Linked DNA regions of Homo sapiens. The protein of the gene in region 2 binds, or shares a complex with, the protein of the main gene of each other region. Each region holds a gene or a part of one and is shown on either strand. Other genes may lie near its edges. The genes, in order: MED25, CCNC and MED16.

What was found.
Region 1: CCNC (region 2) and MED25 share a complex: the UniProt entries of both Homo sapiens proteins name them as parts of the mediator complex.
Region 3: CCNC (region 2) and MED16 share a complex: the UniProt entries of both Homo sapiens proteins name them as parts of the mediator complex.

Annotation. Positions count from the first base shown.
Region 1 is NC_000019.10:49,831,684-49,835,333, reverse strand, and holds part of MED25 (mediator of RNA polymerase II transcription subunit 25), read right to left. Parts: intron 3,399-3,650; coding exon 3,313-3,398; exon of another isoform or gene 3,235-3,312; coding exon 3,177-3,234; intron 3,027-3,176; coding exon 2,919-3,026; intron 349-2,918; coding exon 157-348; intron 1-156. UniProt on the Homo sapiens protein: Component of the Mediator complex, a coactivator involved in the regulated transcription of nearly all RNA polymerase II-dependent genes.
Region 2 is NC_000006.12:99,558,610-99,562,259, forward strand, and holds part of CCNC (cyclin-C), read right to left. Parts: intron 3,073-3,650; coding exon 2,988-3,072; intron 2,828-2,987; coding exon 2,758-2,827; intron 1-2,757. UniProt on the Homo sapiens protein: Component of the Mediator complex, a coactivator involved in regulated gene transcription of nearly all RNA polymerase II-dependent genes.
Region 3 is NC_000019.10:872,559-876,208, forward strand, and holds part of MED16 (mediator of RNA polymerase II transcription subunit 16), read right to left. Parts: intron 2,897-3,650; coding exon 2,686-2,896; intron 1,025-2,685; coding exon 891-1,024; intron 1-890. UniProt on the Homo sapiens protein: Component of the Mediator complex, a coactivator involved in the regulated transcription of nearly all RNA polymerase II-dependent genes.

The DNA.
Region 1 (3,650 bases), on a different chromosome or scaffold from region 2:
GGAGAGAGACTGCAAGAAAATCTGAGTGGGACTTAGCTTGGAGGCACCACATATTGGGAGAAGGGTGGGCATCTTGGTCCTGGAGACCCCAGGGGGCCATGTGGGGCCCGGGCAGGAGGGGGTCGGAGTGCTGGTTTGGGGACTGTCAACACTCACTCCTCGCTGCTGCTGCTCCAGCTTCTGCTGCTGGACCTGCTTGTGGTTGGTGATGACCTGCCGGATGCCGTTGACGAAGCCGCTCTGGTCGTAGGGGATGAGGCCCATGAAGATCTTCTTCTTGGACGAGTACAGGAGCATGAGCACGCGCACCTCACAGGGCGCCGTGTGGGGGAAGTGCACGCAGCCCGCCTGGGTGGACAACAGCTCTTCAGAACCATTCAGGCCCTGAAAGAGGCAGCCCTGACCCCCTCCCCATTCCAGAAGGCTCTAGAGGCCCCACAGGCAAGGTGAGGTGAGGTTTCTGCTATAGAAGGTTAAGGAGAACAGGTGTGCTATGGGTTGCTCTGGAGACAGAAACTGAGGCGCTCAGGGCAAGCTAGGGTTCCAGCTGCCCACTGAGAGGGAAAGCGGAGAGAAAGTGCTGGAGCCCAGCTCTTCAACCTTCAGCCACCACCTGCTCCTCATGGACCCAGTTTCTTGGGCATAAAATGCCACGGCGGCCTCCTCAGAGGGCGGCTGAGGGTCACGGCCGGGAGAGCGGCCTAGATGCACAGCGTGGTACCCACAGGCCTGTGATCAACGGTGGGTCGGACCCCGGGTATCCAAGAGATCCTCCAGCCCTCAGCACCGGCCAGTGTACACCACGGGGAGTGCTCCCACATCACAGGGTCGCTGTGACTATGCGATGTCTGATCCACAGCAAGAGCCCTGCCTGAGGCTCAGCCCACAGGAAGCACCCAGGAAACATCACTGGTCATCAGGGGGGTAACACATGGAGCATTCAGGGCAGGGGCTCCTGAGGGAGGCGAGGCTGACCTTGGCCAAGTGAATTGACTTCTCTGAGCCTCGGTTTCCTGCCTGAGACAGACCCTGCTAGCTGCCTATTCCATATCCAAGTGTCCTCCTCCCCTGCATTCCCAATGCTGTCTGGGGCTGTAACATGTCCCAGCCCCAGACAGTCACGGATACCTGCTCCCAGCAGCCTCCCATCAACTAGGGGCTGCCCAGTGGCCTAGGTCCGGGATAGGAGGTGAAAGGAATGCCTGCTCTGGAATCTGAGAAAGTTTCTGCTGTCTTGAAGAAAGGGAAACACACAGCCCCCTTCCCCTCCTTCATGAAAGCACACAGGATGCGTGGAGCCATGAGAGCTACCTTGTGACTATAAAGGAGAGGCCAAGAGAACCACAGGGCCCTGTCCCTGATGTCACAGACCTATGAAACCAATCCCAATAGCTGGCCCCCTCTAGATGTCCTGTCCTGTGCAAAATATAAATGCCTGCTCCTACAACGCCTGCCCTCTCAGAACCCAGCTGCCACAGTGTGGCCACGTGGACAGGCCATGTGCAGACACTGGGATGGCCGGTCCTAGCCAAGCCCCAGCCAACAGCCAGGGCTGTGTGAGGAGCTGTTTTGAACATCCAGCCCAGTAAAGGTTTCAGATGACCAGAGTCTCAGCTGCCATCTGATGGCAACCCCGTGAGAGTCGCCAAGCGAGATGGCCCACTGAGCCCAGGTGACCCACAGAATCATAAGAGAACATTTTTTCCGAGTGCCCCCAATTATCTATGTGTTTGGGAAACTACGTGATTTGCAGCCGGAAGTACTAACTCTCAGGAATGCCTTCTTCACAAGGTTCTGTGAGGGTCTCGTGAGGTGATCCCCCTAAGGTTCTCTTTCCTGCAGGAGTGCCTGGTGCACGGAAGTAACTGATCTGCTCCTTCCCCGAGTTACAAAGTGTGAACTGTGACTCCCAGAAAGCTATGCTGAGGCTGGGCGCGGTGGCTCACACCGGTAATCCTAGCACTTTGGGAGGCCGAGGCAGGCAGATCACTTGAGGTCAGAAGTTCGAGACCAACCTGGCCAACATGGTGAAACCCTGTCTCTACTAAAAAATACAGAAATTAGCTGGGCATAGTGGCACATGCCTGTAATCCCAGCTACTTGGGAGGCTGAGGCAGGAGAATCGCTTGAACCCAGGAGACGGAAGTTGCTGTGAGCCAAGATTGCACCACTGCACTCCAGCCTGGCTGACAACAGTGAAACTCTGTCTCAAAAAACAAAACCAGAAAGCTAAGCTGAGGTTCCAGTCCCCAGCACCTGTGAAGGTGACTCTATCTGGAAAGAGGGTCTTTGCAATTGTAGTAAGATGAGGTCAGGAAAATGGGGCCTAATCCAAAATTACTGATGTCCTTATAAGCACAGACACAAAGATACAGAGAGAATGCCATGTGGAGACACACACAGAGGGAAGACAGCTGCGGGATGGAGGAAGACCCTGGAGCGATGCCACCTGAAGCCTGGGGTTACCGGCCGGAAGAGGCAACGAAGAGGCCTTCCCTCCAGCCTCTAGAGAGAGCGTGGCCCTGCTGACACCCTGACCTTGGGCTTCTGGCCTCCAGAACTGGGATAGAACACGTTTCTGTTGTTTTAAGCCCCTCTGCTTGTGGTAATGTGTTACCACAGCCACAGGAAATGAACACATCCCATAAAGCCATGCCAGAATCAACAGCTTCCTCCTAACTGATCCTGTCACATCCAGCTCACATTTTTAATGTGGAATATCCCTCAAATCTGGTGCATACGATGATTATAATAAAAGTCACGGCTCTAGAAGAAAGGCGAGGAACCTAAGGGCATGAAGTGCACCCAACCATCAAAAACGGCTTCCGTGGGCCCAGGCACTCTGGGATTCCCGTCAAAGGTCAGCAGAAAGCAGGACAAGAGTCAACACCCCTCGGCCCCCCATGCCCTGGACTCACGAAGCCGTTGCCCATGATGCGGTAGAGGCCTTTGAGAGACTCCAGGTCCTTGTTGGTGAAATGGAACTGGACCATCCTTGAGTTCCGGAACAAAGGGCCCAGGGTGGTCTGCGGGAGACACAGAAGTCGGCTGGCATGCTGGTGTGGGCAAGTGAGGCGGGGACATGAGGCAGGGAGTGGGGGTGGGGCAGGGAACAGGAAAGAGACAGCAGGGTGAGGACTGCCCGGCAGCAGGGCTGGCCCTCCACCGCCACTCACCAGCAGCTGCTGGGGGATGAGCTGCATGATCAGCTTCTGGGGCCACTGCTCCGTCTTCCTGGGGGCGATGCCAGGAGAGGTGTGAGGAGGGGGCCAGCCCCAGCCCCACCACACCCCGCCCCTGACTGTCACCTACAGGTTCTCGCCATGATTCACGTAGACCTGGCAGGGCAGTGACCGCGTCAGCTTGGTGTTGGCATCCACTGAGGCAGGTTTGGGTTTCTGAGGGGGAAAAAAGAGCATGTCAGTAAAAAGGGCCATAAGCCTCAGTCCCCTTGAGCCCTCATGTCCTACCCTGGTAGCCCCAAAGCTCAGGATGTTCCCCAGTTTAAGTCCCATGAGCCCCAGGCCCCTCCTCCAGACCAGCAAGCCTTCAGTTCCTCAAATGTTACAGCTACGTGCCCGGCCCCTAAATCCCACCATCCACTGTGCCCCAGATGATACATCGCCTGGGCTCTTCTCTGGGCCCCAAAT
Region 2 (3,650 bases):
CAAAACAGGATTTCCTTGCTCCTGTTTACAATCTGTTCACCTTCTAACTACTTGAGGTGTGAAGTACTTACACTCCTAAATGTACAGGCTGATTACCCCTTATCTGACATGCTTAGGATCAGAGATTTTTCTGATTTAGGAATATTTTGCATTACACTGGTTGAGCATCCCTAATCTAAAAATCTGAAATGCAAAATGTTCCAATGAGCATTCCTTTGAATGTCATGTTGGCCCTCAAAACGTTTCAAATTTTGGAGCATTTAGGATTTTCAGATTACGGATATTCTGCCTGTATTACCTCTCCCCCAAATTGCTACAACTTAAGACATATTTTAAAATAATTTTATAATTTAATAACAATAAAAGGTACCAAATTAGAAACCAAGCCTTAAGGTTACAGTGTCAGTTTTTCCATTTAAATTAGTTTCCAAGAAGATTGTTTACATTCTATACTTAATTGCAAGAATATTAAGTATGTTTCCTATTCAATTCAACCTGTATTAACAGATACTTCATGCCATTCTATGGTAAAACAGTTGAATTTGTGAATAAGATAAACCTTAATTAATCACCAAAAGAACTAAAAAAAAAAAAAAACCATATAAATAGTTACTATCCTTTTTAGAACAGGGAGACAGGAATTACGTAAGACTTCCAAAGTCAGTTCCCATTTCCTCTTTCAACTGAACAACCACCATTGTGAAAATACTAAAATTTATTATGATCCACCTTATATATACTGTTTCATTTATTGCCTCGTAAGATTTCTAAAGCCTTCACTTCATTTTAAAATAAAAAAATCAAGAGTTGGTTTCTTATCCAACAAAAGGAGCTAAACTAAAAATCTATTTAAATACCTTCAGCCTACATCCTTATCCTGTGTAGGGGAAATGTATGTGTACTAATATATTTGTTTTACATTTAAACCTCCAACTATAATAACTGAAAAGAAAAAGTAAAAGCCTGAGACATGTTCTTAAATGAGCTTTCCATACAATTTCCATAAAACTAGAGAAAATACAGAAAGATTTGGTCACAGAGATAAAAAAAAAATAATAATAATGCTACGACCAAATCTGAAAGACTACATTCTCTTTCTCAGGAATAATTCTTTTTTTTTTTTTTTTTGAGATGCAATCTTGCTCTGTCACCCAGGCTGGAGTACAGTGGCATAGTCTTGGCTCACTGCAACCTCCACCTCATGGGTTCAAGCAATTCTCATGCTTCGGCCTCCCTAGTAGCTGGGATTACAGGCATCTGCCACCACATCCGGCTAATTTTTGTATTTTTAGTAGAGACGGGGTTTTGCCATGTTGGTTAGGCTGGTCTCAAACTCCTGACCTCAGGTGATCCACCCGCCTGAGCCTCCCAAAGTGCTGGGATTACAGGTGTGAGCCACTACACCCGGCCTAGGAATAATTCTTTATCCAAAACTCAAAGGGAAAACTTTCATTCAGTAAATCACATCACAGAGTTCTACTCAGTAAATCACATAACAATATTTAACAAGTAAGATAGATTAAAATCCTCAAATTAATCTACAAGATTAAATGTTTATAAAGATTTTTTGTCTTGGTCCTCCATACTGCCTGTGCTTAAGAGACTTTAAATTATTACATGGTAATATTTAAATAAAATCAAATATTACATAGAATTATTAGAATTAGAAAACTCAATCCATAATAAGGACCTTAACTGATTCTGCCTTCTTAAACTACCACTCACAATTAGAAAACATAAACTTCTAGAAAGCTTGTCTTAATATTATTTCTAACAGAGTCAATTGTCATTATTTAGGTAACAGTTGGGAAAGATGTCATGGATAACCTTAAATCATGGCTAAAACAAAACTAAATCAAAGTGGGTGCCAAAAGGAATGTAAACTTACTAGGTAAAAATCACATTCAATATTCAAGAATACAACTCTAAGAATAGAACTCTAAGACATTATCCAAAAATAGAAACATAATGCAAAGATTTCACACCACCAAAGACTACATTATTTATGAAAAACAGCCAATATCTGCTATTATTTTCTGGACTTTAGCTGAGCTCTTTCAAAAATACTACAAAGGTAAAACAGTTGAACAGAAATTCAGTCTCTGCCGCAAGTTCCTATCTATCTTCTCTCCCTTACCTAATTTCTCTACGCTCACAACCTCAACTTTTACTTGTTAGACTCTATATAGCTATAGCTTCCCCTAATCCTTGCCTTCCTTCTGGCTTGGTAGGCAGCCAATCATCAGGATGATGGGAGGGAAGACAGGAGAAGATAAGCATATGGGTGAGAAGCATAAGGGACATTCTCAGGTTATGGTAGGCAAGCTGTGGTACTTACTGAATACTACTCAGTGCCAAACAATAGATGTCTCAAAGGCAGCAGAGGAAAGTAGTTAAGAACACAGGATTGGTAACGAGACTCCCATGGTTCAAACACGGGCTCTCACACTTACTAGCTATATCATCTTAAGCAAGTTCTTCATCTCTGTCTCAGTTTCCTCATTTATAAAATGGGAATACTACTACTATGTATTCCAGTTTGTTACAAAGATTAAGTCAGTTGGTACACAGTAAGTGCTGTATGTGTCTGTTAAGTGAATATATAAGGATATGTATATATTTCTTTGATTTTGTACAATTTTAGTATTTTGCATAAATTACCATTTATTAATTTTACATAGGCCATGTGAAAACTGGGGCAGATTAACCAACATACATTGACTACACTTTGATGAAGAACAGAAAATTGTTTTATACCTCTACTTTGGATGCCAAAAACACACATGTAGGAGCCATTAATACAGGATCTATACTTTTCAGAGAATACCTAAAATATGATAAAACAAAGTTAAATATCATTCATACAGAAAACACACTGGGAAAAAAATCAAGATAACTCTATGGTAGACACATGATTCATTTACACTGTGCTAAGGTTCATCAACATTAGATAAGAGTTCAAATAAATAAAATAAAAACAATCCTACCTGGCATAGAATCTCTTGAAATATACCGTAGCAGTGGCAATAACTTGTTGTCTTAATTTAAGATGTTCACCTAATGCTTGGATAACTAAAAGGCAAATAATGAAATTTTAAATGTATCTTCTGGTATCATTATAATATTAACATTGAACAGTAACTTCCATGTGGTTAAATCATAATTATGTTCATTTTTAACAAAGGAAAAAACCTACACATGCTCTATGTGAGTCACAGTGGTCTAATTCTAGGATTTGCAAATGTGTTAAGAAATATATAGGTATGCATAAACAACAACAAAACAACAACAAAACAGAAATTGCCCCACAGGAAAAAATTATTCATCCATTAAGGAAGTTGAATAAATATTTCCCCTCTATCTTCTAAATATTTTTAATGCTTTTCATAGTATCTTTATAATAAATATAAAAAGAAAATATTAGACACCTATGAAACTTGTTAATACTACCACTTTTTTTGTTGTTTTGAGACAGAGTCTCGTTCTGTCGCCCAGGCTGGAATGCAGTAGCACGATCTTGGCTCACTGTAATCTCCACCTCCCAGGTTCAAGTGATTCTTGTGCCTCACCACGCCCAGCTAATTTTTGTATTTTTAGTAGAGAGGGAATTTCACCATGTTGGCCAGGCTCATCTCAAATTCCTGGCCTCA
Region 3 (3,650 bases), on a different chromosome or scaffold from region 2:
GGGCGCGGTGGAGAAGGGCGGGCCCCAGGGCAGGATGAAGCCGGGTGGGTGGGGCAGAAGAAATCACAGCTGGGGCAGGACAGAGTGTACCGGCGGGGGGGTGGGGGCGAGGTTGGAGCCCTGGTCAGGGGCGCACAAGCCGCAGAACTGAAGGTGGAGGTGTGGATGGAGACTTGATTTCAAGGCCGCCCACCCCAGGCGCAGGGAGCTGGGGAGGGTAAGGGGTGGGGGCAGCAGCAGCAGAAGCAAGGCGAACCGGCCTTCGTGTAGGGGTGGGGCTGAGAAGGAGCAGGGCCTGGGAGGCGGGGCTTTGAGAATGGGCAGGAAGGGTGTGGCCAAGGAAAGGCTTCTTACAGCAGAGGCTTCATGGAGAGGAGGGCTCCGAGGTGGGGGAGGGCTCCGAGGTGGGGCAGGGCTCCGAGGTGGGGGAGGGCTCCGAGGTGGGGGAGGGCTCCGAGGTGGGGCAGGGCTCCGAGGTGGGGCAGGGCTCCGAGGTGGGGCAGGGCTCCGAGGTGGGGGAGGGCTCCGAGGTGGGGGAGGGCTCCGAGGTGGGGCAGGGCTCCGAGATGGGGCAGGGCTCCGAGGTGGGGCAGGGCTAGGAAGTGGGGCAGGGCTAGGAAGTGGGGCAGGGCTAGGAAGTGGGGGTTTAAGAAGAGACAGACTCAGGAAGTGGGACTCCAAGTAGGGGTGGGACTCCAACCAGGGGCGGGGCTGAGGTGGGACTCCAAGCAGGGGCGGGACTCCAAGTAGGGGCGGGACTCCAAGTAGGGGCGGGACTCCAACTAGGGGCGGGGCTGAGGTGGTTTTGAGGGGCAGGGGCAGGGAAGCGGGGTCCTGATGAGATGGGGGCCCAGGTGGGGGGCGGGGCCTTAGGGGAGAGCATGGCGCACCTGGTTGGGTAGGCTGGCCAGCAGGTACAGCACGAAGTCGCCCACCCACTGCAAGAGCTGCTGCAGCGCCTGCAGTGTGTTCATGTCCAGCACAAATTCCTCCGTCTTGAGGTTGATCATGACCTTGTCAATGTCTACAAGGAGACGTGGGTCGGGTCAGCTCGGGCCTCTTGTACACACAGGGTGACCTAACTGCACCCCTCGGTCCTTCGACCTGCACTGAGTGCCCACCCAGTACCAGGACACAAGGGGACCCACACCGGGAACGAGAAGGGGGCGATGGCGTTGCCGGACGGAGAGGAACTGGGAGCCCACTGCCTGCCCCCCCCCGGGGGCCGCTGTGCTCAGCACCAACCAGCTTCTCTCGGCCTGCAGGCCTTGGCGTGGGCAGGTCCCCATGCCAGGGCCACCAGTGCTCAGGCCCGGCCTGCTGGTGCACATCTGCCCCCTGCTCCGAGGTGAACTCTGTGAACACAGGGGCATGTCCACAGCGTGCAGCTGCAGCCACCCCCGGCTGGCAGCTGGCGGCGGTTACACACCCAACAGATGCCTCTCGGATGGTGACTAGGGTGGTCCCACAGAACTAACCATGACTGTGCACACGGCTCCCAGCTACCAGGAGTGCCACGTGTCCACACTCAACCGGGTACTCCAGACAAACGATAACCCTAAATTTTTTTTTTGAGACAGAGTCTCACTCTGTCGCCCAGGCTGGAGTGCAGTGGGGTGATCTCAGCTCACTGCAAGCTCCGCCTCCCGGGTTCACGCCATTCTCCTGCCTCAGCCTCCCGAGTAGCTGGGACTACAGGCGCCCGCCACCACGCCCGGCTGATTTTTGTATTTTTAGTAGAGACGGGGTTTCACCGTGTTAGCCAGGATGATCTCGATCTCCTGACCTCGTGATCAGCCCGCGTTGGCCTCCCAAAGTGCTGGGATTACACACGAGTCGCCACGCCCAGCAACCCTAATTTTTAAAAGAAACAGCCTGCCAGGCACAGTGGCTCACGCCTGTAATCCCAGCGCTTTGGGAGGCAGAGGCGAGTAGGACACCACGTGCTGGGTGAGCCTGGGCAAGCTGCTTAGCCTTTCTGCCTCAGTCCCCTTACGGCAAAACGGAAGGAGGAGCAGACCTGCCTGCACAGGACCCGGGTGCCGGGTGTCGGCCTGGGAGCGTCTCAGCCCCCAGGAGTAGAGAGAGGTGAAAGGATCGCTTGAGCTCAGGTGGTCAAGACCAGCCTGGGCAACACAGTGAGACCCTGTTGCTACAAAAAATTAAAAACCGGGTGTGGTGGCACGTGTCTGTAATCCCAGCTACTCCAGAGGCTGAGGCGAGATTGCTTGAGCCCAGAAGGCAGAGGCTGCGCTGAGCTGGGACTGCGTCACCGTGCTGCAACCTGGATGACACAGTGAGACCGTCTCTAAAAGCCTGGGTGTGGTGTAATCCCAGCCTTTAGGCTATATCCCAGCACTTTAGGAGGCCGAGGCGGGCGGATCATTTGAGGTCAAGAGTTCGAGACCAGCCTGGCCAACATGGTGAAACCCCGTCTCTACTAAAAATACAAAAAATCAGCCGGGCGTGGTGGCACGTGCCTGTAATCCCAGCTACTTGGGAGGCTGAGGCAGGAGAATCACTTGAACCAGAGAGGCGGAGGCTGCAGTGAGCTGAGATCGCACCACTGCACTCCAGCCTGGGCAACAGAGTAAGACCCTATCTCAAAAGAGTAAAAAAAATAAATAAAAATAAAATAAATAGATGAAAGAAACCTCGAGGCCCCGGGCGTGGAAAAGGACCCACCGACGTCGGTGATCTTGGTGCAGATCTCGGTCAGCCGGTCGCCGGGGCTCTTGTCAGGCGTGTTGAGAAAGTGGGGGCGCAGCAGCGACTTCAGGGTGGAGCTGATGGCGATGAGGAAGAGCTTGGTGTGGTAGTCGCACACGCGGGTCACCGTGCAGGGCGACAGCTTGCAGAGCGAGGCCTTCATGGCCAGGATCCGGGTGGAGAGGACCTGAGGGCAGGAAGCCAGGTCACCCCAAGGGGCCGGAGCAGAGGCGCCCGCCAAGGCTCCAGCTGAGGAGAAGAGCAGTTCGACTCTGACACCAGGCGCTCGGTCAGCTGGGCAAGCTGCTTCGCCTCTGCACCTCAGCAACCTCATGGCAAAACAGGTGCGGAAGACCAGGCGCACAGGACCAGGTGCTGGGTTCTCAGCTGGGAGCGGCTCTGCCTCTGGTGGGGGCCCCTGGTGATGTCTGGAGATATTTTTAGTTGTCACCACTGGGGGTGCCCCTGCCAAGTAACGGGTGGAGGCTGGGGAGGCTGCTCAACAGGACACCCCCATCCCAGAGGCTGCTCCAGCCCCCGATGTCTGTGGTGCCTACGGGGAGACCCTGGTCTAGAGAGAATGAATGAATGAGCTGAAGCATTTTGGGAGGCTGAGGCTGGAGGATTCCTGGAGGCTGGGAGTTGGAGAGCCTGTGCAACGTAGGACACCCCATCTCTACAAAAAATAGAAACAACTAAAAACAAAAATGAAACGCTTGGCACACAGCGACGGCCCAAGGAGGGAGAGGGCGAGGTCTCGCCATCACTAGCGCTGTCACTGGCTACGGATCCCAGCCACGCTGGGGTTTAGCCTCGCAGCCCCCGCCTGGGTCTCACGCGTTTCTCGGCAGGCTGTGCCGTGAATGGGATTTTTTTTTTCCCATTTTATCTTCGTATTGGTTTCTGATGGCACAGAGGAAAACAAGTGAAGCTCAGAGGGC